Homo sapiens: one gene and its partner. The protein of the gene in region 1 interacts with the protein of each later gene in a pairwise test. Each region holds a gene or a part of one and is shown on either strand. Other genes may lie near its edges.

Evidence for each region.
Region 2: the proteins of SLC35F2 (region 1) and TRIM59 interact in a two-hybrid assay, tested with the Homo sapiens proteins (one large-scale study listed by BioGRID).

What each region holds. Positions count from the first base shown.
Region 1 is NC_000011.10:107,810,026-107,814,058, reverse strand, and holds part of SLC35F2 (solute carrier family 35 member F2), read left to right. Parts: intron 1-2,264; coding exon 2,265-2,392; intron 2,393-4,033.
Region 2 is NC_000003.12:160,435,003-160,437,394, forward strand, and holds the end of TRIM59 (tripartite motif-containing protein 59), read right to left. Parts: 3' UTR 501-2,392; downstream 1-500. UniProt on the Homo sapiens protein: E3 ubiquitin ligase involved in different processes such as development and immune response. Serves as a negative regulator for innate immune signaling pathways by suppressing RLR-induced activation of IRF3/7 and NF-kappa-B via interaction with adapter ECSIT.

The DNA of each region.
Region 1 (4,033 bases):
AGTGAACAAGGACAGCACTGTGCACACTTAGGAAATTAGAGTAATTTATTTCATCCCATGCACCAGCTATCTAAAAGTCTTTATTGAAATTTAGGGCTGGGTGTGATGGCTCACACCTGTAACCCCAGCACTTAGGGAGGTCAAGGTGGGAGGATCACCTGAGGCCAGGAGTTCAAGACAAGCCTGGGCAACACGATGAAACTCCTTCTCTACAAAAAATACAAAAATTAGCTGGGCATGATGGCATGTCCCTGTAGTCCCAGCTACTTGGGAGGCTGAGGTGGAGGATGGCTTGATCCCAAGAGGCTGAGGTTGCAGTGAGCCAAGATCACACCACTGCTGTCAAGCCCAAATGACAGACCAAGACCCTGTCTCCAAAGGAAAAAAAAGAAGAGTTGGGAGTGGAACTGTACATGGTTAATAACCCTGGACTTTGCTCTTTGTGGAAGCATTGGCCTTCAGGAATTTGGTGAGACTCCCAAATGTATCAGTGCAGTTAGTCTCCCTAAGGGATGGTTGTTAGGTGCTTCCTATGCCATTTGATGCTGAGGAAGACTAATTCTGTGTTTTTGTTTTGTTTTTTGTTTTTCTTCTGAGACGGAGTTTCGCTCTTGTTGCCCAGGCTGGAATGCAGTGGCACGATTTCAGGTCAATGGCACAATCTCGGCTCAGTGCAACCTCTGCCTCCTGGGTTCAAGCGATTTTCTTGCCTCAGCCTCCCTAGTAGCTGGAATTACAGGCACCTGCCACCACGCCCAGCTAATTTTTGTATTTTTAATAGAGATGGGGTTTCTCCATGTTGACCAGGCTGGTCTCGAACTCCTGACCTCAGGTGATCTGCCCACCTCAGCCTCCCAATGTGCTGGGATTACAGGTGTGAGCCACCGCACCCGGCCTAATTCTGTGTTTTCAAGATGTTCCTGCTAACTGGATTTTACTGATAATTATTTGGTTATGATTCTCACTACTTTTATTTATTTGTGAGTTATCTTGCCATAAAACCTTCTCATATATGTGCCAACTCTGCATCTCCTGTGATGACAGATTCTCCAAAGTAGTGAATCCAATTAATTTGAATACATATAATTTGGAGGAATAAAAGGTGTTTCTTCAGTGTGCACTAAGCCTTTTCTCAAGCTTATCGAGGACTTAATTTTCACTTGAAAGCACACCTCTTCCAAAAGAATGATCACCTGCAGACTTTTCTTTGAAGAAGCCCATGAATAGAAGTTAAATAACCAATTAATTTCTAGGAAAACATTTCATTTCCTAGGATAGTCCGTGGCTTGTCAGAAGTGGCGACATACAAGCTCATATCCAGAAATTTTGTTTCTGTTATGATAGGAAAGGGATTTTAAAAAAAAACTATTTTATTTTTTTAAGTTCCAGCATACATGTGCAGAATGTGCAGGTTTGTTACATAGATAAACGTGCCATGGTGGTTTGCTGCAGCTATCAACCCATCACCTAAGTATTAAGTCCAGCATGTATTAGCTCTTTTCCTTAATGCTCTTCTCCCGCCCTGCCCTCCCTCTTTTTTTTCTTAAAGAGGTGGAGTCTCATTATGTAAGCCCAGCTGGTCTTGAAATCCTGGGCTCCAGCTGTCCTCTGCCCTCACCTCAACCTCCTGAGTAGCTGGGATTACAGGTGCACACCACTGTGCCCATTTGGGAAAGGGAATTTAACCACTTTTCTCTTACTTTCATTCTGGTGCTTTTATTGAACACTTGGTCTCTGATGATACTTTAACTAGGGTTTCATGCTAGAAAAAAATCTAACTCTGGTGAGCTGTTGCAGGAGTTTGGGTTATGAAGAATGGAAACTAGGAGGGGGCCACATTAGAAATACACAATAGCCAGGCGTGGTAGCTCACGCCTGAAATCCCAGCACTTTGGGAAGCTGAGGCAGGCAGATCACTTGAGCTCAGGAGTTCAAGACCAGCCTGGGCAACATGGTGAGACCCCCATCTCTGCTAAAAATACAAAAATAATTAGGTGGGTATGGTGGCGTACGCCTGTGGTCCCAGCTACTCAGGAGGCTGAGGTGGGAGGATGGCTTGAACCCAGGAGGCAGAGGTTGCAGTGAGCCGAGATTGTGCCACTGCACTCCAACCTGGGCAACAGAATGAGACCCTATCTCAAAAAGAAGAAGAAGAAAAAAGAAAAAAAAACAAGAAACTCTTGCTTCTACTCTTTTATCTTCAAATCAACATGTATGGTATCATTTGCAAGTAACATGTACTAACCCATATTTCTTTCAACCAGGCAGTGATAACCTTTTAGTAATCTTGAAAAGAAAATGGTGGAAGTACATCCTGCTGGGACTAGCAGATGTGGAAGCTAATTATGTGATCGTCAGAGCCTACCAGTACACAACTCTAACCAGTGTCCAGGTAAGAGGGAGCCCTCTGACCACTTTGGATTTTATAGCTTCAAAAGAAGAACACGAAGTCATATGTGTTGACCTAATTTTATTGAAAATCTATTCACTTGAAGAAAACCTAAACACAGGTGGATGCTGTTTTCTAGTAGAGCATATGCTCTAATGAGTAATGTTTCCTAGAATTAGTGAAAATGTATACAACTTAAGCTGCCCCCAAACTGCTATGGCAGATTAGAACAGTTCCTACCAAATAAGCATAAATATTTAGTTGGCAGTTGATGCTGTGGTGTTGACACGTGTTCTGTTTTATATGCTGCTCAAACATGGCATATGAAAGTATACCTTTGTTCTATAGGAAAGTTGAAGCTTTGCAAGCATAGTAGATATTCATGACAAAGAAACCATTGGAAGAAACCCAGTAGACATTTTTGGGAGAGGTGGTAGCCAGAGTTAAAACTCCCATCCCTATTTCTTTGTTAGGTTTATTCTTGCTGCATTGAAAGAAAAATATTCCTACATTGCAGAGGTTTTCAACTTTGTAAAGTTGAAGACAACTGATTTCAGTTGTCTTAATGTTAGCAAACTATGGGATGTTTCCTAACACTGACTCACCATTACTGACTACAAAATGTTTTATAAGTGGAGGTGAAAGTGAGATAGACTCAAATGCCAGGTTTAGATGTCACAGTTTGTTTATAACTTTTTTTTCATTTTTTTAAATAATAAAAAAAAGTGTGTATCAGATGTGGGATTTGAAGTTTATAACTTTTTGATATGTCCCTTTCTCACTATACAAAATACAGAGATGTTCTTACTTGACTCCAAATTTTAGGGACTGGAAAAATTGAAATTAGACTTATTTCGCATAGAAAATATAAGGATTGATGAGAACTCAGTATTTTTCCAGTGTGAACCTACATTAAATGTTACTACCATTATATTAACTACTTTCTTTTCTGTAACATTGTGCTAAGCATTGTTCTCAGGAAACCTCTTGGATTTTGACCAGTATGGGTTAAAAAGCTGAGATAGGAAATGATTTATTAAGACAGACACTATAGGAGGCACAAAAAGAACCTAAAGTTTCGTAAAAATTAAACCCAGCAGTTACCTAGAGAATGAAGTTTATCACTAATAGGAGTAAGTGTACTTTTAGCGTTGGTTAATGAAGTATACATAAGTATGTAGAAAATGGTATTTTCTTGTCACATCTACTCTCATAATCTCACCTACATTTTAATTACTTGATTACAATTCCCAGGAACTTTGATCTCTAACTAATGATAAAAAGTTTTGAATTGGTGCAAGGCCTAAACACAGTTAAACAGAACACTTACAGTTGGATAGTTGCGACTGAAGTTCATGCCTTCTTTCAATTTCAAAGAAATTGAAAACAATTTCTTTCACGCTAGCCTCTTAGAAAAACCTAAGCATTTGGTTGCCAAAAGTCATGCACTTACGGTCCTAGCAAAGAATATATTATAAAAAAGGCATCTAACAAGGTAATGTTTTCTCCAGCAGCAGCGACAGCTGTGATAGGAATGATTCAAGCTGGTTCTCCAACTGAGTAAATCTCTGGCCTGGGTAGTCCAAAAGGATGGAAATCTGGATTAGGTGGTCTTTGAACCTTCTTCTTAAGGATTCCTTAGAA
Region 2 (2,392 bases), on another chromosome or scaffold:
GGAAAAGTAAGTTTAAAGTGCTATAATGATAATCAAGTGTTTTCATTTGGTGCGAAAATAGAATTTAATACTTTTATTATATTTTAATAACCAATGCAGTAGAGCTCAGATTTTTTTTTTTTTTTTGAAAGTCTCACTGCATCACCCAGGGTGGAGTGCTGTGGCAAGATCTTGGCTCACTGCAACCCTGCCTCACGGGTTCAAGCGATTCAAGTGCCTCAGCCACATGAGTAGCTGGGACTACAGGTGCACACCACAGTGCCCAGCTAATTTTTGTGTTTTTGGTAGACAGGGTTTTGCCATGTTGGCCAAGCTGGTCTCAAACTCCTGGCCTCAAGTGATCTGCCTGCCTCAGCCTCCCAAAGTGCTGGACTATAGGCATGAGCCACTGCACCCAGCCTGCAGTACTAAGTTTCAAAGAATTAGAAGTACCCAGAACCCATGTGAAAATCCCATAGCTACCACTCCTGAGTATGGAAGTCTCATTAAGACAGTGCAAATAAAATATCAAAAGAAGTTTATTAAAATACATATTTTGTTATACATAAAACTTAGAAATATTTCAAGATTTACATACATCAACTTTTGCAATCTTCCTGCTGGTAAAAATACAAAACAGCAGCATAAGAACCAGTTACTCATATACTCAACTATATTCATGCATACTTAACAAAATGAAAAGTTCTCCTAAAAACTGGCAAGATACAAAATGTCAAATCTAAAATGATATATATACTTACGTTTTTAGCATTCTTACAGATTACAAACCCTTACCAACATTAATCTTGGCCTACTTTAAAGTTGAGTGATAGCATGAACTCTGAAAAGAGAATGCATGGGTTTTCTCACAGCTATATGGCCTTGGACAAGTCACTTGTCAGTTCCCTCATCTACAAAAAGGGGGTTAAAAATATTCACATCACAGAAATGAGATTAAGTAGTTTAACACATAATGGCTAACATTTCATTGCTTACGTGTTTTTGAAACTACAGGGCACTTTTATGGTGTGACTAGTATTTTAAGTAATCAGTGCAACTTAGTATTTTTATCTCTAGCTGAGTATGTGTCTCTCCTTACCTCTACTATGCCCTTTAAATGTTCTTTGCCCACACAATAGTTAATTGTGCTAGGTATAAGTCTGATTCTAATAATAAATTGATATAATACAGTCATCTTAGTGTTAAGACTTATTCTCAGCAGGTAAGAGTTTTAGAACTAGTTCCCTGAAAAAGCTGTATTTATGATAGTTTATGTGCAATCTGTAGGGCCAGGAGCATAGTCTAATCTGACCCAGAATGTCTTTTTGATTTGATATAGGTAAGGCTCTTCGGTGATCCAAGAGCAGCCCCTTTGGGATTTCTGGAAAGCAAATCAACCTGCACTTAGAGTTGCATGGACAGTGGGCCAAAAGTCGTAACACATGCATCATAACTCCAGTCCCTGTTAAAGGGAACTAAAGGGCTTTGATTTAATTGGCCCTCTTAAGCAAAGCTAATAAAAGATTAAGTTGTTGGGCCGGGCGTGGCGGCTCACGCCTATAATCCCAGCATTTTGGGAGGCTGAGGCGAGTGGATCATGAGGTCAGGAGATAGAGACCATCCTGGCTAACACAGTGAAACCCCATCTCTACTAAAAATACAGAAAATTAGCTGGGCGTGGTAGCAGATGCCTGTAGTCCCAGCTACTCGGGAGGCTGAGGCAGGAGAATGGTGTGAACCCGGGAGGCGGGGCTTGCAATGAGCCGAGATCACGCCACTGCACTCCAGCCTGGGCGACAGAGCAAGACTCCGTCTCAAAAAAAAAAAAAAAAAAAAAAAAAAAAGATTAAGTTGTTGGTACTTTTGCATTAGCTTAAGGGAATGTGGTAGAAAATTTAAATGAGTTAAGATGAATAAAGTCCACATGATGCCATCAAAACCTGTTGCAGACCAAGTTACCAACATGATTCTGTTCTAATAAGAATGAGTTTTTAATCCAAGAACTGATTTGACTGACGAGCAGAAAAAAAAACAATCTTAAATTTGCACAAACTATAGAATATGACAAGTATTAGAAAATGCTGGCCCCCAGGCACAGTGTGGCTAACGTCTGTAATCCCAGCACTTTGGGAGGCCAAGGTGGGCAGATCTCTTGAGCCCAGAAGTTTGAGACCAACCTGGGCAATATGGCAAAACCTCGTTTCTACAAAAAACAATTTTTTTAATTAGCCAGGCATGGGGGTGTGTGCCTTGTCCCAGCTGCTCCAGAGGCAGAGGCGGGAGGATCGATTGAGCCTGGGTGGTCGAAACTGCAGTGAGTCATGACCAGACAACTACACTCCAGCCTGGGCAACAAGGTGAGACCCAGTCTCAAAAATTTCTTTTAAAAAGCCACTTTACTCTAACAGTTATC